Linked DNA regions of Homo sapiens: all the other regions are linked to region 2. Evidence: fine-mapped expression QTL. A gene starts in region 2. Each other region holds a variant in brackets. All regions are shown on one strand. Distances are between the middles of the regions. Region 1 has its middle 19 kb from the start of MIR9898. Region 2 holds the start of KRT79 (keratin 79). Region 3 has its middle 9.0 kb from the start of KRT2.

Region 1 (2,758 bases), 45 kb before region 2:
GCAAGACTCTGTCTCAAAAACAAAAAACAAACAAACAAACAAAAAACAAAAGAAAAAATGGCTGGGGGTGCAGTGGCTCATGCCTGTAATCCCAGCACTTTGAGAGGCAGAGGCAGGCAGATTGCGTGAGCTCAGGCATTTGAGACCAGCCTGGGCAACATGGCTAGACCCCATCTCCACCAAAGGAAAAAAAAATTGCTGGGGCCGGGCGCAGTGGCTCATGCCTGTAATCCTAGCACTTCGGGAGGCCGAGGCGGGCAGATCACTTGAGGTCAGGAGTTTGAGATTAGCTCGGCTGACATGGTGAAACCCTGTCTTTACCAGAAACACAAAAAATTAGCTGGGTGTGGTGGCACACACCTGTAATCCCAGATACTCAGGAGGCTGAGGCAGGAGAATCGCTTGAAGCTGGGAGGCAGAGGTTGCAGTAAGCCGAGATCACGCCATGGCACTCCAGCCTGGGTGACAGAGTGAGACCCTGAGACACACACACACACACACACACACACACGCCCGGGGGTGGTGGTGCATGCCTGTGGTCCCAGCTACTTGGGATCACTTGACTGGGGGCGGGGGTTGGGGGGGTATGCCAAAGTTTGCATTGAGCAGAGATCGTGCCAGTGCACTCCATTCTGGGTGACAGAGCTAGACCTTGGCTCGAAACAGACAAACAAAAAGCCAAAAAACAAAACAAAAAAAACAAACCCAAAACACACAAAACAAAACAAAACAACCTGTCCTGAACAAAATCAAACAAGCCACAGGAAACACAGCAGAGAGACCGAGGCCAGAGAGGCAAGGCTCGCCTTGATTCCTGCAGCATAAGAACCTGAGCCAGCACAGAGGGGATTGAGGTGCAGCTGATTAAAGGGGCAAAATCTCCAACACCAGCTTCTGCCTTCATTTCTAGACTTTGAGAATCCAGTATTGGCACTGGGGGACAGTGCTGTGCTGGGGACCCAAGGGACACAGAGAAGCGTGGGCAGCCGTAGATTATCCTCTTTCCCTGCAGCCTGCTGTCAGCCTGCTTGAACTTCTGAAGAATGGGCACCAAGACGGCTAGGATTGACCGAAGCGGGATGGATTTGTGCAAACCGGAGAGACATCAGACATCCACTAGGAGGCAGCAGAGGAGCAGGGAAAGAAACTGCTCTCCCGGCTTCTGGAAGCCGAGCCTGCACACCCTCCCACCCCCTCACTACATCCTCCCTATCCCAGGAGGCTGACTTGGGAGGTTGTTGGGTTGCAGGCCACCACTAACCGACAGGG[G/T]GGCTTTGTGCAAATCAGAGGAAGCTCCCATCCTCATGGGAAATGTAGGCTAGGGCATGACTTGGTGAGCGGAGCTTGGGGTGGATCAGTCCACGTCCTCCTATGCCCTGTGCCCTTGGCAACGCAGGGGCCATGGTGGGGGGTGGGTGGGGGGAGCTGAGGGCGGAGGGCACTGAGGAGCAGGGTGAGACAGGCGTGCTGCTGCTGGTGTGCCCTCCACTGCACTGTGTACTGGAGGTTTGAGTGCCGGCGCGAGGCAGCAGGGGCTCCCCGCAGAGGGCGCCACATTGCCCCGCGCTAGCTCTGCGCCGGCTCCGGCCTTTCCAGCAGGTGGCGGGTTCCACTCTCTGTCCTGGAGACTGCTGAGGCCCTCGCGGGAGGTCCACGCCTGCACGGGCCTGGGGGCAGAAGCGCGTGGGCAGGACCCAGGAGGACAGGCAAGCCGGCAGCAGACAGGCCCCAGGAGAAAGCAGCCGCCTGTGAGCCAGCGGCTCCGAGGTGCAGCACGCTGTCGTTTTGGAGGCTCAGAGAGGGGAGTTGGGCAGCATCGGGCAGAGCCAGGGTGAGAACTTCCGTGTCCTCACTCTCAGTTCAGTGCGCCTTCCTCCACAGCACTCCTTCCAGTTGATCCCAATCATGTCCCAGCCTGGCCCAAACCCTTCCTTGGAGACACACAAGCCCCTGAGCTTGGCACTCCAGGCCCGCCTGACCCCGCTGAAGTCACCTCTGCCGTGGCCTTCCACTCAGGCAGCTGAATCCCCTGGGGGTTCCCTGAGGAAGTCGCACCCCCTCACACCCTTAGCCCCTGTGCCTGCTGTCCCCCTGTCTGCAATGCACCTCCTATGGCTGACCCATCCACTTGTGAGCCTTTCATCTTCCCAATTTAGTTAGGATTTCCTCCTCTGGAAGCCGTCCCTGCCCCTCCGAGGCTGGGCTCCCCCTACCCTGTGCTACCCCACAGGGCCCTTCTCACCACACCACAGCCTCCCCAGCAGACGGTGAGCTTGGCCAGGGCCCAGTCTGACTGGAATGCTTCTGTATCCCCGTGCCTGGCACAGAGCAGATGGTTGTAAATATCTGCTGTTAAATGAAAGAAAGGCCTTACTACATTCCCTCCCCACCCTCTGCAGCGGCAGCCTTGCCATCATGGAGGGAAGACACGCAGGCAGGGGGCTGTGGGTGTGTGCATGCGTGTGCGCGTGTGTGTACTGTCAGGTGCACATATGGAGGGCCTCAGGCACCAGAGACAAGGAATAATTCCTATGGGAGATTGTATGTGCATAGGCGCAGACAGGTACAGACAGGCACAGACAGACATGTGCACACCAACCCAGAAAGATGTGGAGCTTCATACACACGGGGAGATTTATTTAAAACAAAAACAATTTTCATGGAAGTGTAACATACATAGAGAGAAGTACTCAAGTCATAAGTCTACAGTGTGATGAAGTTTCACAAACTGAACAGATCATGCTACCAGCACTCATGT
Region 2 (2,758 bases):
GACTAGTTCTGCAAGTGCTCTCACTCCCATTCCTTGTGGGAGCTGGGTTCAACCTCTTCAAGCAACGGGGAGCCACTTACAGCCTCCCAGGGGCCCTAGGAGAAGATCCCACAGCTCCCTCTGGTCCTGGAGCAGGCTGTCTCTTCACTTGCTGGGCTGTGGGGAACATGGGAGGGAGGCCAAGCCTTCTCCGTGGCAGTCCCATGTCCTCTCTGTTGGGATCCTGGGGACACAGCCTGGCTGGTTGTCCTGCTCATCTGATGGGGGTGGGGAGCACAGCGATGCTGTCCTCGCTCCTTTTTTTCAGGCAAGTCTCTGTTCACTTTGAGCCCATCTTCTTGCTGAGAGAAGGGGGTGGGGAGGGCCAGTGTCTAAAGTCACCTCCTCAGTCACCCCTCGGCCCTGACAGTTGACGTCTCTGTCTTTGCTTGGGGCTGTGTTTGGTCCCAGCAGACTGAGGTGAATAGGAAGTGGGCGGCGGGGACCATATGAGGTGATTTAAGGAGCTCCCCTGGCCCCTCTGAATCAGAAACATGGGCTCCTGCATGTGGGGCAGGGGAAGATGGGAGTGACGGGGCTGCTGCGTGGGCCTCCTGGGGCTTTTTTGGAACACCTGCTTTTTGGAGCTGTGCCTGTCTCCACCCAGGGTGGTCTGTGTCCTTGACCCACCTCCAGCTCCCTCCAAAGTGGCTGAACCTTTCTGTGGGGACTCTGCTGTGGGGTAGAGGCTCAGGGATCTCAGGTATTGGTTAAATCCCCTGCCCTCTCTTCAGCCTCCATAAGAATGTCCTTTGCTCCCAGGCTTCTGGGCCCTGCCTGAGGACCCCAGGCCTTTTCTACCTCCTGATCAAGGGCCTGGGCCCCACGATTGGGCAGGGATCCTCTTTCTGTCCTTGAATTCACTTTGCCAGCATAGGCTCACTTCCCAGAAGGCTCTGCCACTGTACGGCAGAGGCACAGGCTATCCCCACTCTCGCCCTGTCACCTGTGTCACACACCCTGGACCTGGGAGGAGTGGTGGGCCGTTGGCTGGGGGTGGGATGGGAGCAGGCCTGGATGCTCTCTCTGGCAGCCCATTGCCCAATGCTCCTTCTCCTACCACCTGTACAGCCCCAGGCCCTGCAGCCTTGGCTTACAACAGGGGCCTGGGACAAACCCCGTAGAACAGAGCCCTATTGACAGTGGCCTCTGGGGCTGGGTGGGAGGACAGCAAGCCAGCCACTGGGTGGTGGGGGTGGCCATGGGAGCCCGTATCATCCTGTGCCAACCGAGGAGAGCCTGGGGGCAGGGGGAGAAGGTGGCATCCTGCCCCAGACAGTCTCGGCTCAGCCCCAGCTCTGGAGCACAGGTGATAACCGGGAGGGCCCCTCCCTCCTGCTTGGGGAGAGGGCACTCCCCGTGGCCCTAAGGACCCCTCCCTCTCCCCTTGGGGCGATGGGGCAGGAGTGTCTGTGGAGCTGGGGAGCCGGCCCAGTTGGGAAAAGATAAAAAGCCCACAGTGGCCCAGCAGCTCACGGCACTCCCTTCCTGCCCTCTCATCCTGCCCTCCGGCCCCTCTGCAGCTATGAGGTCCTCCGTCTCTCGGCAAACATACTCCACAAAAGGGGGCTTCAGCTCCAACTCTGCCAGCGGAGGGAGTGGGTCCCAGGCCCGCACCAGCTTCAGCTCAGTGACGGTGTCTCGGAGCAGTGGCAGTGGTGGCGGGGCCCACTGTGGCCCCGGCACAGGTGGCTTTGGCAGCCGAAGCCTCTATAACTTGGGGGGCCACAAGAGTATCTCTGTCAGTGTGGCCGGAGGGGCCTTGTTGGGGCGGGCTCTGGGGGGCTTTGGCTTTGGCAGCAGGGCATTTATGGGACAGGGGGCTGGCAGGCAGACGTTTGGGCCTGCTTGTCCTCCTGGGGGGATCCAGGAGGTCACTGTCAACCAGAGCCTGCTGACCCCCCTCCATGTGGAGATTGACCCCGAGATCCAGCGAGTGCGCACTCAGGAGCGGGAGCAGATCAAGACCCTCAACAACAAGTTCGCCTCCTTCATCGACAAGGTGGGCCAAGCAGGAAGGAGGAAGGGAGCTCTTGGGGAAGAAGCGGGACCTCTAATAGAGGGTGGGCTGGGCCAGGGCTGCTGTAGCCCACTTGTACTAGGGTGGTGGTTGATAGAGCTCTGGAGCTCTCCCGGTCTGAGCCTGGGATGCCGAGACGTGGGTGGCTGGAGGCGGCCTTCAGGTCTTCACCGTGCCTGTGCGGGGGGAGTCTCCAGTCTACTCATGAGTCCGGTTTGCCAAGTCCACCTTGCCCGTGTTGAAGCCTGTCCTACCACCATGATTAATACGATTGATTGCACAGTAGCCTTACCTCATCATCAAAAAATGGATTGTCCTCATAGCTCCTCTTAGTGGGGTGGCCTGCATTGCCTTTTGTCATTTTACAGCTGGGGAAACAATGCTCAGGAGTTGAAAGAGTTGTTCAAGGCTAAGAGCATGGAGCCCTGTTTGTTCCATTCTTTCAGGCTTGGAGGAGGCTTAAGGGCAAGATGTGATCAAAACACAGTTGTGTGTGGGTGGGGTCCTAGGGGTAGGCTCCCTTCCGCTTCTCCTTTTTTTACACTCTGAGTGAAGAAGCTCAATTTGGGGTGGACAATGAGGAGGGTGGTCACCAGGTCACCAAGCTCTGGGAATGTGGAATTTGACCTGTTGCCCATAGGCATGCCCTGAACCTTGCCCTTGCCTCCAGATGGATGGGAGCAACACTTGTGCTGGGAT
Region 3 (2,758 bases), 170 kb after region 2:
GGTGAATGAGGGTGGGGAGGGCAGAAGTGGGGCTCCCAGAAGGATGTGGTTTCTGAGTACGTTGGGCCAAGCCTTATCACCACTCGTCTTGTGATCTCAGGCAGGTCTCTTCACTCTCTCAGAGGCTCAGTTTGGTCATGTGTGAAATGAGATAACATTTGCCCTAATTACTTCAGAGGGAGAGTGTCAAAGTGAAATGACACATGCAACAGGGACCTGAAGTAATACATGAAGGGAGCGATCATCAGCACTGCTGCTCTTCCTTGAGAAGGCACCCAAGGGTGGGAGTGGGATGGGGCCAACGAGCAGCGGTGCAGCCTGGGTACGCAGGAAGGACTGCTTCCTTGGGGGCCAAAGTGGGGTCCTATGCTTCATTCTTTTAAAAGAAATACCCATTCATGAAGGGAGGGCTTATATCCTAAATCCATGGCCACTGGCCTTGTAATGAATGGCCACTTAGTGCCTGAGCAGGGAGCAGCGGACCACCAGTTGGGAGCAGGACCGGAGACAGCGGGGGAGCTCCAGGGCATAGGGTTAGGGTGGGCTTGTAAGCTAAGGAAAGAGGTGCATGATCAGGTGGCAAGATGCAGGCTAGGAGATTGTGGCAATAACATAAAATCGACGTAATGTTGGAAGTTCTAGACACTTACTATAACTTCTACAGATAATGCGAAAGGAGAAATATTTGCTTTGTGCTAGAAATTGTGCTGTGTCACATAAATCACTTATTTCACAGCAACTCTGAAGTACTACTGTTGACCTGTGAACAACCCAGATTTGAACTGCACCACTCCACTTATATGTGAATTCTTTTTCAGTAAATATGTTGGAAAAATTTTTGGAGATTTGTGACAATTTGAAAAAACTTGAAGATGAACTTGTATCCTAGAAACATAAAAAAATTAAAAAAAAGTTAGGCATGTCATAAATGCATAAAATATATGTAGATACTAGTCTATTTTATCACTTACTCCCATAAAATATACACAAATCTGTTATGAAAAGTTAAAATTTATCAAAATGTGTGCACACACGGACTCTACATAGTGCCAAAGTCAAGAGAAATGTAAGCAACTGTAAAGGTGCATTATTAAATCATAACTGCTTAAAATTAACTGTGATACATATGTGCTACTGTAATCATTTTGTAGCCACCTCCTGTTGCTACTTCAGTGATCTCAGGTATTGCCATTAAAACACTGTGTGATGCTAGTCATCTCCACAAGAGCAATTAGCTCCCCCAGTAAATTGCTTATAGCAGTAAAAAGTGATCTCTGGAGGTTCTCGCATATTTTTCATCATGTTTAGTGCTTTACAGTAAACCTTGAATAACACCATGGGACCCATGCAGAGTGGCACTAGTGATGCTGGAAGTGCTCCCAAGAAGCAGAGAAAAACCATGACATTACAAAAAAAAAAGCT[G/T]AATTGCTTGATATGTACCGTAGATTGAGGTCTGCAGCTGCAGTTGCCTGCCATTTCTGACATGATAGATAATTCATCTTGCAAACACATGATGTAAGCTTATGGTATTGATAGATACAGTACAGTACTGTAAACGTGTTTTCTCTCCTTATGATTTTCTTAACAACATTTTCTTTTCTCTAGCTTACTTTATTGTGAGAATACAGCAATAACATATATATAAAACAAACAAAATATATGTTGACTGCTTATGTTATCAATAAGGCCTCTGGTGAGCAGTAGGCTAATAGTAGTCAAGTTTTTAGGTAGTCAAAAGTTATATTGAATTTTCAACTGCAAGAGGGGTCATGCCCCCTAACCATTCGGTTGTTAAAAGGTCAACTCTACTGTTACCACCACTTTACAGATGAGGAAATGGAGGCCACAAAAGGGTAGGTAACATTTCCAAGGCCAAGAGGCCAATAAGTGGTGGGGCTGGGATTCAACCCAGGTGTGTTGGACAAATCCATGTCCTTAACCAGTACACAGGCGGCCTTTGCTTGTTACAAGGCACCATGCAAGGATAATTAATTGTGATATTAGGTTGGTGCAAAAATTATTGTGGTTTTGGCTATTACTTTTAATTACATTACTCAGCTTTTCTTCCTAAACAGAAGATCCCTCTCAATGTTTTCTCTTGGGATACTGTAGTCACTTTTTATATGAGGACAGAAGGCAAAGAAAAGACTCAGGGGACAGGCAGAGGGCCCAACAGCCCAGTGTTGGAAAGCCTGGGTTTTCCACCAGGGTAGAGCAGGGCAGGTCTGCCTTGAACCTGGCCTCAGAAGCTTCCTTCTCAGTCCTCTTTCCTTCCATCAGCCTGGGGAGAGTGATGAGGAGCTGTGCCCCCTGGTCCTTTGAAGGGACCCTGGTCATCTCTGGCAGGGCCTGCTGCTCCCCATCAATGCCAGGCAAAGAGCTGAGTGCCATGCGCTGCTGCTGAAACACCAGTGAGGAAACATAAACTGGCGTCTCCCAACCTCATCATCAGGTCTCACCCCAGTCCTGCCCCTCCCTTGCCTGGCAGTGCTCTTTCCTCTAGCTCTCAGAGGAACCAGGGGGAGCCTGCTCACCCCTTGACAGACGATCGTTTGGGTTTTAGGACAAAGGCAAAGTCTGCTTTCCCAAGGTAATGTAAACAGCCAACCTGCTCTAGTATGATGCTCCTTGTTTTGCTGTTTGGAAAGCAGGTGTCCCCAAGAAGGGCCAGGATGCCAGGCAACAAGGCTGTTAGGTGGGTGAGGGAGTCTAGAAAGCTCCTGCAAGAGCAAGGGTTCGGAAGATGCGGAGGGCTCCT

The links.
Region 1: its variant is fine-mapped to the expression of KRT79 in whole blood (INTERVAL, PIP 0.99).
Region 3: its variant is fine-mapped to the expression of KRT79 in whole blood (TOPMed, PIP above 0.99).

The regions. Positions count from the first base shown.
Region 1 is chr12:52,878,473-52,881,230 of GRCh38, reverse strand. No RefSeq gene overlaps it. Among named protein-coding and RNA genes, the nearest start is that of MIR9898, 19 kb to the left of the region's middle. The variant G/T (reference allele first, on the strand shown) is at 1,270.
Region 2 is chr12:52,833,067-52,835,824 of GRCh38, reverse strand. KRT79 (keratin 79) reads left to right here and starts at 1,514. Exons shown (of 9, transcript NM_175834.3): 1 at 1,514-2,041. The coding sequence starts at 1,565.
Region 3 is chr12:52,659,836-52,662,593 of GRCh38, reverse strand. No RefSeq gene overlaps it. Among named protein-coding and RNA genes, the nearest start is that of KRT2, 9.0 kb to the right of the region's middle. The variant G/T (reference allele first, on the strand shown) is at 1,423.